Regions from separate parts of the Homo sapiens genome. Here region 1 is linked to region 2. Evidence: fine-mapped expression QTL. Tissue or cell type: whole blood. Region 2 holds a variant in brackets; the other region holds the start of a gene. All regions are shown on one strand. Distances are from middle to middle.

Region 1 (5,394 bases), 120 kb after region 2:
CCTGGAGCTCTGGCTCCAGGGGTCAGGAGGAGAATCTGCAACCACCCTCCTGGACCCGCCCATCCCTCCCTCCCCAACAGAAATGGAACCAAGAGAGGCAGAAGCCTGAACAGCCTCAATGCAGAAGCACAGAAGATAGAGAAAACCATTGATCTTTGCAATGCATTATTGATTTTGCTGTTGTGCTGTCAGCAGCGGACGTTCCCTCCCTCCTCAGTCAAAGCTGGCCATTAGCGTGCACTCCCAAGCTTTGGCCTAGACACACCCGCTTGGTGTGGGGAAAGCGGCTCTAGGTAACATCTGCCTCCAGCGGTCCACATGGAGAGGACTGTCCACAAGTGGATGATGTCACCAAGGACATCTCCCTGGCCCCAGACCCACTGGATATCAAATGCAACATGGTCGCTGGTCTTGCACTCTAAACCTCAGCCCAGGACCCCAGGCACTCAGGGGGGTCTGTGCAAGGCTGCATTTTCAACAGACTCTGGGTGTGCTTCTCAGGAGGTGGGCCCCCTCCCATGGAGTCCCTCCCTTGTGCTGTGCTGCAAGACCTTGGGCTGGCATGGCAGCTGGGGCTCTGCATCCCCACGGTGGCCTTTTGCCTGTCTGCACTCTGAAATACAGCCACTGAGTTCCACCGTCTACCAACTCCTAAGCGGCCCACCCTCCTGGGACCCCAGGGCTGCTCCTGGCACCAGTGATGTGTTTCTATTTCTTTGTTTGACTCGCTGAGTGTACCACGTACACTCTTCTCAGTCTGAAGGTCTGGCCTTATGGGAGGGCAGTCTTTGCTCACAGAAACAGGCCAGTGCATCCCTCATCTTCCCACCCCAGCCTCCCTGGTGGGTATGCTGAGCCCGCCTGCTTTCTTCTTCTGGCTGACGACTACCAAGACATGATATACGCAGACACCAACTGTCAAAATGACAATCAGGGCATTATCATCTCTACCAGAATCCTGCCCCTGCACTGGCCAGAGCTGCCTGTTTCTGGGACACAGTAAACATTCCCAAATAACCTCGCCTGGGCAGCCAGCAGGCAGGCCCCAGGCCTAGGACACATATGAGGTGACAGGCCACTGGTGTCACGTCACCCCCAGGAAAGGAAACTTCCGTTCCGTGGCGCCTGGTGGATTTGAAAAGACTCAGAACAGCAGGGTGAGATGCTTGGCCCCAGGCCCCACGTCCAGCTTGGCCTTCGGGGGCCTGGCCACCCACGAGCCTGGGATGTGCTCAACACAGAGTGAGGTTTTCAAAACAAAAGCAAAGCAACTTCATGTGGAAAACCTTCCGGAAAGCAGGACCCAGCCCTCGACACCAGGCCTCATTTGACGCAAACTGCCCACTTACAGACTCCCATTCACCCACTCTCCCACCTACCCCCCAAAATACTAAGCCAGAAAATAGAGGACAACCACGAGTTCAACTCTCCTTTACACGTTTTTACTGGCATAACCCCAGTAGAGCCAGCCCCTTGCAGCTCACTAGGCGGCTGCAACAGGTGCAGCCCAAGCTAAGGCTTGTGGTTCTCCTGGGCTGTTCTAGAATAATGCAACCAAAACCCGAAAGGAAACCGAGGCCTGCAGCACTCACTGCCAAGGCGGCGACCTGACCACTGCGGCCCAACCTGCCCCACCTGTCTGAGTGCGCGGCGCCGGGTCCAGTGCACAGGGTCCGCGGCCTCCGCGACCAAAATAGAAGCCCGCGGGGGCCCGGCCAGAGCCCGGCTGGCCGGAGTGGGGCCTGACCTGGCGGGGCCGGACTGGGCGGGCCGGGGCGCGACGGGGCCTGGCCGAGCGCACCGCCCCCTCCCTGGCCCGGGTATGCAGCGCGCCCCCGCTCCCCCGCGCCCAGAGGAGCCACCTGCGCGCAGGGACTGGGGAGGCAACCGGGAAGGGGAGAAGGCCGGGGAGGGATAGCAGAGAGGTCCAGGGGGTCGGAGGGGTCCGGGTAGGTGTCTCTGGGAGGCGTCCCAGGAGGGGCCCCGGGGGGATCCAGGAAGGAGTCCAGGGGTCCGGGGATCCCAGAAGGAGGCTCCTGCAGGGGTTCGGGGAGGGCCCCGAGGGTCCGGTGAGGAGCCTAGGGGTGTGGAGTGGGGGCTCCGCGGAGGGTCCAGGCCGCCCCCAGCGCACCTGCCCGGCCCCGCGCGCCCTCCCTCCCGCGCCAGCCCGGCCGCTTACCTGCAGCGCGCGTCCTGCCCGCGGCGGCTCCCGGCCGGGCGAGTTCGGGCGCCAGGAATGGCGGCGGCGGCGGCGGCGGCAGCGGCGGGAGGCGGCCGGGCCGGGGAGGGGGTGGCGGGGAGGCCCGGCGGCGGCAGCGGCGGCTGGGATGCTGCGGCGCGCGAGAGCGCTGAGGCCGGCGCGGGGACGGAGTGCGCGGGGCGGGCGCGCAGGCCCCTCCTCCGCTCCCCCTCCCTTCCCGCCTCCTCCCCTTTCCCTTCCCCTTCCTCTCCCCCTTCTTCTCTTCCCTCCTATGGCCCCGCCCCTTTCTTCCTCCTTCCTCCTCCCTCCTCCTCGCCCCTGCTCACCTCCCTCCTTTCCCTCCCCCAACCTTTCTTTTCCTCCCTTCTCTTTTTCCTCCTCTTTCTTCACCTTCGCAACACTCTTCCACCTCTCTCCCCTTCTCCCCACTTTTGCTCCCCACTCCTTCCTCCTCACCTCCCATCTCTCTTGCCTCCCCGCCAGGCCCAGAGGGTTGTCCCTCAGCCCTGGGTTGGTCTCTGCTGAGTCAAGCACCCGTTCCCAGGACCAAGAGGTGCCCTGTCACCCTCTTCCTCACCAGCTCTCAATAGACAAGCTTGCCCCTTCTGGGGTCCTGGATGAACCCCACCCTTTCCAGGCCTCCCCCAAATCCCCCAGTTTTTTTTCACCCCCAGACCCTGGGCCAGCTCTTCTGAGAACCTGACCTGCAGTGTGCGTGAGGCACGTGGCACCCAGAACACTTGGCTGCTGACTTTGGGCAAGAATATTTCACACCAGGCTGCTCCCATTCCCCAGGGGAGGGGCTGGCACCACCTGGAGTCTTGGTTTCCCTGAACCCCCGTGCTAGCCTTTTGCCAAACGTTCATCATTTTCCACTCTGTATGGCAAATGGTCCTCCTGTGAGGCTGCTGGTGAGACTTGTTTGTGACTAGCCCATGGGTTTGGGGATCTGGGGGCCCTCAGAGATGGTGCTGCTCCATCCAGACCTCTTCCCTCTGCCCCCAGGAGAGGTGACAGGGCTCGCACAGTGACTGGCCAGGCTGGGAGGCCTATTGAGGAACACAGTCCTGAGAAGGGGACACAGTTTCTTACGGAACCAGCTAAGATTTCCCCTAAATGTGAGGAGTTGGGGAGCCCCTCTCCAGGCCAGGTGATACCTCCCTGGACTACAGACTGCTGTTGAGGGGCAGGGGCCCTGAGGCTGTTTTCCTGCTGAGCACTGGCTCTGAGAGCCAGAGTTTACAAATGAAGCCAGTCCCAGGCCCAACAGTCACAGAGTTAAAGGCCCAACAGTCTCAGAGTTCCGTTCTAGGGCCTCCTGTGGTTTCTGTGGTTCAGTGCCGGAGCTCTGAGAATAGGGCTTCGGCCCAGCAAAGGCTAAGATGGCAAAGCTGGTGTCAAGCAGGGTGGGGTGGAGCACGCACCCCCTCCTCCCTCTACGGCATGGCAGCCACCACCCTCTTGCTGAAGAATCCAGACCTGGAATCTGATAGACTCCCTTGACTCACAGCTCTGCAGTTTCCAAATAACCTCAGGCCTCAGCAAACCTCTGTACCCTGCAACATGAGGACAGTGTGGTCGTCCTGGAGGGTTTGGGGAGCACGGAGAGAGAATGGCAGGTAAAGCCCACTGCACCGTGTGCTCGGGTTCAGTGCTGGTGACTATTACAGGAAAAACTAGAGAAGTCTTTTCCAAGCTCTTTTCCAATTGTAGGGGTCCATGAATCCATGTTCCACATCCCATTTGGATTGAAACATAATGGGAACGGATTAGGACAGAACTGGTTTAACAGCATTCTATACCCAAGGAGGGATGCACGCTTAGGATCTACACATGCAAGCATTGCACTGATTGGGGTGGGGTGGGGGGACTCTCTTTTATTCCTCACTAGTCAGACACATCTAGAATACCATGCCCTTGCTTGGTGTCTAAGGCAGCCAGCAGTATCCCGTGGGAGGGGAGTTGACCCACCGGGAGTCTTCAGCCTAGAAAATCAATGTGTGGAGCACAAGACAGAAGAACCCCAATATGTGCAAAACTGTCCCGGGAAGAAGGATTACTCTGTGGTGTTATGAAGGGCAGAATGAGGACAGATGGGTGGAAATTAGATGAGAAAGTGGATTCCTGCCTATCGTGGGCGCTTTCTGACAGACCTCACTGTGGAAGAGCCGGCTGCCCCTACAGGAGCGTGCCCTTCACAGCCAGCGTCTAGACAGGCCTGGGGCCACCTTGGGAACACACTGCAGGGAGGGGACCAGCAGCAGAGGGGTATGCTTCTCAACAACTGCTGAATTCTCTCCTGGCTTTTAGACCCACATGCTCAGAATCTAATAGAGGGCAGCCCAGGGCAAAGAAGAGACTTTGCATGGCTGTCCTGGGGCCCACACTTCTGGCATCATGACCTTCCAGAATACTGTCCTCTCTAGCCTGTTTCCTAATGCATACAGAAGAACATGAGAGAATTCAGTAAAAACTCCAAAAAGCTTTCCGCAATGCCCAGGCTGCGAACACAAGGGCTTCTTTGCACCGTGCTTATATAAAATTGCCCCCAAACATGTTTATTGCATTCATGAAGGAGACAGGACTCTTAGTTGTAAGTGATAGAACTTCAGCCCATACTATTGGCTCACTTGCATCCAAAGATGCCCCAAGTACCATTAGAACCGGGACTTGGATGCCATTATTAGGTCTTCCTCTTCCCTCCTCTCTGACCTTCTTCCCTGTTCCCTTCTCTCAGCATGATTGCCTATGTCTCCCAAAGTGACCAAGCTTGCCTTTTTATTCTTGTTTCACACTCTGTCGTGGGACATTTCAAACATAGATATAAAAGTAGCAGGCTGGGTGCAGTGGCTCACGCCTGTAATCCCAACACTTTGGGAGGCTGAGGCAGGCGGATCACCTGAGGTCAGGAGTTCGAGACCAGCCTTGCCAACATGGTGAAACCCCGTCTCTACTAAAAATACAAAAATTAGGTGGGCATGGTGGCACAAACCTGTAATCCCAGCTACTCAGGAGGCTGAGGCAGGAGAATCACTTGAACCCGGGAGGCGGAGGTTGCAGTGAGCCAAGATCATATACCACTGCACTCCAGCTTGGGCGACAGAGCAAAACTCAGTCTCAAAAAATAAAAATAAAAGTAGCTAAATGAACTCCAATCTTGCCTTACCTCTCACCCCCTTACTTTCCCCTCCAAT
Region 2 (5,394 bases):
CACTGAGCCTTGAACCCCTGGGCACAAGCAATCCTCCTGCCTCAGCCTCCCTAGTAGCTGGGACTACAGGCGTGTACCACCATGCCCAGCTGCCTAAACCTTTCTTAGTCTGATGACAGCTGTCTTGTCAGGGTCAGGAAGACACAGAACTGAGGGTCAAGTCTGCCTTTAGCACCCTGGAAGGTGGCTGCTGGGGAAGGGGCATCTGGCCTGATGCCACCCCTCCCTCTGGGTGTGGTGCTATTTCAGACATCCACAGGCGGGTGAATCCCAGGTGGGAGCCCCAGGGGAAACACCACCCCAGCCCTTACACTGCCTGAGGATTAATCACTCATGGGCTCCTTTCTCCCCATTTATAACAGGCTTAGGTTTTGCTTAATGAGCCCCAAGCTAAGCAGAAAGAAAACAGGATGGTTTTGGAAGGAGACTGCTTCCCAGTAAGCAGATACACTCTAAGTGGCTTCAAGTACTCTTTCGGCAAGAAAAAAAGACAGAGAAGACCACGAGTCTGCTACAGAACACTTGACCTCTGTTCCGAGTGGAGAAAGAAAAACAAAACACACACAAATGCCACAGAACTGAAGCACCGTGAAATGGCTACAAGACCTCGCCACTCCCAAAGGAAATGGGACGTCGAGGAGTCACTCACCCGGGCACACAGAAGCATCGCCGCTCATCTCCTGAATCAAACCCCTGCAAAACAACCGGCACGTGTTATTCACCCACACACATGGGGGACATCCCCAGGCAGCGCATCCCGCCCCATACCTGCTGGGGCTCTCGGTCTGGTGCAGAGCCACGCAGGTCGCTGTGGGCGGGCTCCAGGCGCAGTAGGGGTCCCGCGCCAGCACACAGTCCTCGCAGGTGCCGTGCTTCCCACAGAAGGCCAGCGGGGCCTGGACCACGCCCGAGTTAGAGCCAGCATAGACAAACCTGTTGCCCTGCGTGTATGAGACAGAGAAGAACTAGCATCAGGCAAGCAGGCATCCAGGAGCATGGCCTCTGCTTCTGCACCAGTGTGTGGGAAGCAGCCAGAGTGTACCTTCAGGGGACATTGCAGTAAGGAGGAGAGGTACTCAGAACCAGAGGCAAACAAGGCAGGTCTGTGACCTTCCTGCAGAATCCACGTGCTATGTCAGGGCTCACTGGGCCTTAGGTCCAAATCCCTCTCTCCCCTGTCTGGGCACCCACAGGTGCCTGCCCTCCAGCAAAGCGCTTCTCTGCACGTGTTTCTCTTAGCCAGTGGGGAGGCTGTTCAGTCCCCACCTCCAGATCTCCTCCCTGCAGCAGAGGATGCATGAGCCTGGCACTCCCGGTCATCTTCCCGGCCTCACTATAGGTGAGAAGGGGCTGCAGCCAGAGGCTGAAGCACACCACCTCGAAGCCCAACCTCGTCCCCCGAGCCAGAATGTGAGCACCTGTGGGCGGGGAGCCTCTCGTGAGGGTCTGGATCCAGCAGAGGCCTAACATAACAGGGATGCCAAACGGACGACATGCAAAGGATGAGGAGATCGTGATACAAAACATAAAAAAGGAACAATGCCTTTTGCTTTTCACTTATCTATATGTAAAAGGGAAGAGCTCACAGACGGGAAGTCAACCTCCGAGCTCCAGAGCAGCCACACCCACAGCAGAGGGCAGGTGAGACTCTCCCACCTTCTGGGACACTTGGTTCCCAGTGACACCAGCTTCAGGTCCATCCCATCAGCCCACCTGGCACCAGCAGTGCCCAGCACACAGGCATCCAGGGCTGCTGACTGCTTTTGAACGGAACTCAGCTGGAAGGAGGGTGCCCCACATGCAGTGCACCCACCTGAAGCTCGGGGGCGTGCAACAGACCTGGAGGTGGCCCGTGGAGCGCGCTCTCTAGCCTCTGCCCAGGGCATCTGCCTCAACAGCCTGGGGACACCTTTTGGTTAACAATACAAGATTCCCAAATTTACACATGACTTAGTGGTTTACAGTCAGATGAAACACGACCTTCATCCTCAGAGGATACGCTCGGAGTCAACTTCAGAGTGTGGTTGGAAGATCACAGGCCCTGATGCCAATACAGGAAGCCCCAGGCCACACATCCAGCTGTGCGGACACAGACCCACGAGAGAAAGGGAAAGCCCCCAAGGATGGAAACTGTGATAATACACAGCAGAGGGAACCTGGCCCGCCGCTGGCCTCACAGCAGCAGCAGCAGCAGAGACCTGGGCAGATGAGGCCATGTGTGAGCCACGTTTGTGGGAAGGATTGAGGATGACATCCCAGATCACAGTTCGGGCATCGCGCGGCTTGTGGAGGTGGCGGAAACATTCTCTGGCAGCAAAGCCAAGCTGGGTAACTTCCAAGGGACAGCTGGTCCTGTTGGGTCCCGCGGGGGGCACCTGCGAGGTGGCGTGAACACCATGCAGTGCAGAGCAGGGTGCCCTGGGTGGCCAAGTGGGGCCCGCCTGACTCCTCACCCCAAAGAGAGGCTTGAGGGTAGCTGTGGAGGGTGGGGTGGGCTCTGGGGGGCAAGGCCTGTCCCAAGGGGATCCAGACCACCTCCTGCACCCTGCGGGAGACTCAGCCCCAGCTTCCGCTTCTCCCGGATGGGGCTGGGCTGCAGCCCAAATGAAACTAAGCT[G/T]TAAAAACTAAACGACGCCACACAGAGACCAAGGGATGACTGTGGAAGGGAAGAGGGGACAGGGAAGGAGGAACTGGTCGTCAGGACAGCCAGCTGTAACTGCTGCAGGCAGGACCCACTGGTCGATGTGGATGTCAGTGGGTGGGAGAACAGGGCATTTCTGTAGCCTCCAAGTCTGTCCCTGCAAATAAGCATGAATGACTGTGGGGGTTTCCCACATGACTCCCCTGGGAGGTGGGGCTCACTCTCCCCCACCCCCAGTGTGGACTACATGCCCCGACACACTCGACATGGAAAAAGACGGTGGTGACTTGGACAGAATGACCAAGGTCATCACGCTGGTGCGAGTCATACAGATGCCCCATCCCCAGAAAGCGCCCTCTTTGGTGCTCCCCCTAAAACCACGACCCCAAGATAATCACAAGAATACACCAGACACACCACAAAACACCAGACTACTCCTCTCCAGGAGTGCTGAGGTCAGGGAGGCAGGAACAGAGCAGAAGCCGAGGAGATGCAGTGTCCAGTGCAACCTGAGGTGCTGAGCCAGGAATGTGGTGGGCGGGAGGTAGGAGGGTCCAGGGTCTGGGGTTCAGGTAACGCACTGCACCATGACAGCACCTTGGCTCAGATAAATGCACACTGGCTATGTGAGACATCGGACATGTGGAGCTAGGTGGGGGCGCTCAAGATCCTTCTGTGCAATCATCAAAACTCTTCTGTAAATTTAAAATTATTTCAAGACAAAATTTTTAAAGGCAAAGAAAAAAAGCCTGACCAGGCACCTGGCAGCATGAGTGAGGCCCGCTGAGAGCAAGCCTGTCCTGTGCACTCCTGCCCCTCGACGCCCCCTGTCTCCGCCTTCCCTGGGCCTGAGGATTGTCCCCTTGCAGGCAGCTCTCATGCTCCCATCTCTGTCTCTGCTGCTGTGTGTGCGCGTCAGACCCCGAGGGCAGGTTGGAGTGACGGTGGACGTGATCAGAGGCAACTGAGCTGTCTAAGTGCCTTCCTTGCCCTCTGCCACGCTAGCTGTAGCTCAGCATCCCAAGGAGTCCTGGTGAAAATACAGACACAGCCTACTCGGTGGGCTCAGAGAGGGCCGAGCAAACCGCATCTGCTGTGTGCGCCCAAGGAATGGAAAGCAAGGACTTGAGGTATCTGCACACCCACGTTCACAGCAGCACTGTTCACAGAAGCCAGAAGGTGGGAGCAACCGTGTCCATCAAGGGATGAACGCACACACAAAATGCGGGACTCACAAAATGCGGTATTCACATACGACAGAGGAGTATGTAGCCTTGGAAAACCCTGACCCCTGCTACAGCAGGGAGGAACCTTGAGGACTTTATGTTAAGTGAAATAAGCCAGTTACAAATGGATAAATACTGTGTGATTCCACTCATATGAGGTACCCAGACAGAAACAGAAAGCAGAATGGCGGCTGCCCAGGGCTGGAGGAGGGGAAAATGAAGAGTTTGTATTTCACAGGTAAAAAGCTTCTGTTTGGGAAGATGAAAAGCACCCTGCAGACAGACAGTGGTAATGGCTGCAAAACAACGTGAATGTTCTTAATGCCACTGACGTGCACAATGAAAAATGGTTAAGACGGCAAATTTCATCTGATGTGTATTTACCAAAATAAAAAGCAAAACCCCATGCTTGTCATCAGGGGAGAGGAGGTGAGGGTGGAGGCACAGCGCACCTCCCCAGCTGTAGGACAGGGGGAGGGCGTGGTACTGGCCGTTTCTCCATTTGCTGATCACCGTGAGAGAGCCTGATGGGGTCAGGCGGCACAGTCTTTTTACCACTGAACAGCCACTTCCTGCTGCCATGGCCATGGAGCTGGGCCTTCCACCCCCACCTGGAGCCTACTGAGGCCCAAGGAGAAGGCACAGGACCCCACGGCAGGCAGGATGTATTTCCGCTTGTCCAGGCAACTAAGCCACGTCCCCACGAATGGAGGCTCCTACAGAGACAGGCGGGTCGGGTGGTCCAGTAGGACCAGCAAGCGCTTCCCCAAACCCACTGGCTCCTCCTCCTGGGCGCGAGGCTCCCTGTGTGGCCAGCTGCCCTGGTGTGGCCATGTGACCGAGTTCTGGGAGATGGCGGGTGGGCACTGACCCGTAACCCCCTCTGTGCGGCCCTCCTCTTCCTACCCCCTTCTGCCTTTGAGGATCAGTGCCCATGTGCCCTGGAAGCCTCCACCAGCCTGGGTCCCTAAGTGACCCTTGGAACAGAGTGTCATTCTCACGAATGTCCACACCAGGGGCCCAATCTTCATTCTAATGAGAAGTCCACATTTTAGAGATGTTGTAGGTGCCTGCCCAGTCTGGCTGAGGCCACTGAACAGCACGATGGCCCCAGAAGAGCTTCTGGGTCCCCTTCTTTCAACAACGAGGCTGGGGTGAGGCCCCACAGTGGCTAAAGCGTCGACCCTTCAAATCTCCAGGGCTCCCTTTGTGTCCTGGAGACCGAGAGGCTGGTGAACAGATGCCAGTACCCAGTGGCTTATAACTTGCTCAGGCTATTTCATTCTCTTTTCCTTTCAGATCTGAGGGAGAACTCTCCATTAGCAGAGGGGAGGTGACCACGTAAAAGGACCCAGGCTCCCAAGCTTTGTGGATACAGGGGAGGGAAGAGGACAGAAGACCTGGAGGGGTGTTTGCAAATACGCACCTGCCAAGGGTAGGTATCTTACCCGGCCAGACAGGGGCCCTCTTCCTCTGCCTGTTGCTCCCAGCTGAGGGAGGAGAGGACTGACTGGGCCTGGATCCCAC

The links. PIP is the estimated chance that this variant, and not a neighbour inherited with it, causes the effect.
Region 1: it holds the start of SEMA4D, and the variant in region 2 is fine-mapped to the expression of SEMA4D in whole blood (TOPMed, PIP above 0.99).

The regions. Positions count from the first base shown.
Region 1 is chr9:89,495,740-89,501,133 of GRCh38, forward strand. SEMA4D (semaphorin 4D) reads right to left here and starts at 2,374. Exons shown (of 16, transcript NM_001371194.2): 1 at 2,180-2,374. RefSeq lists silencers at 1,694-1,843, 2,274-2,463.
Region 2 is chr9:89,380,406-89,385,799 of GRCh38, forward strand. It overlaps SEMA4D (semaphorin 4D), which reads right to left. Exons shown (of 16, transcript NM_001371194.2): 14 at 769-941; 15 at 650-693. Among named protein-coding and RNA genes, the nearest start is that of SECISBP2, 65 kb to the left of the region's middle. The variant G/T (reference allele first, on the strand shown) is at 2,618.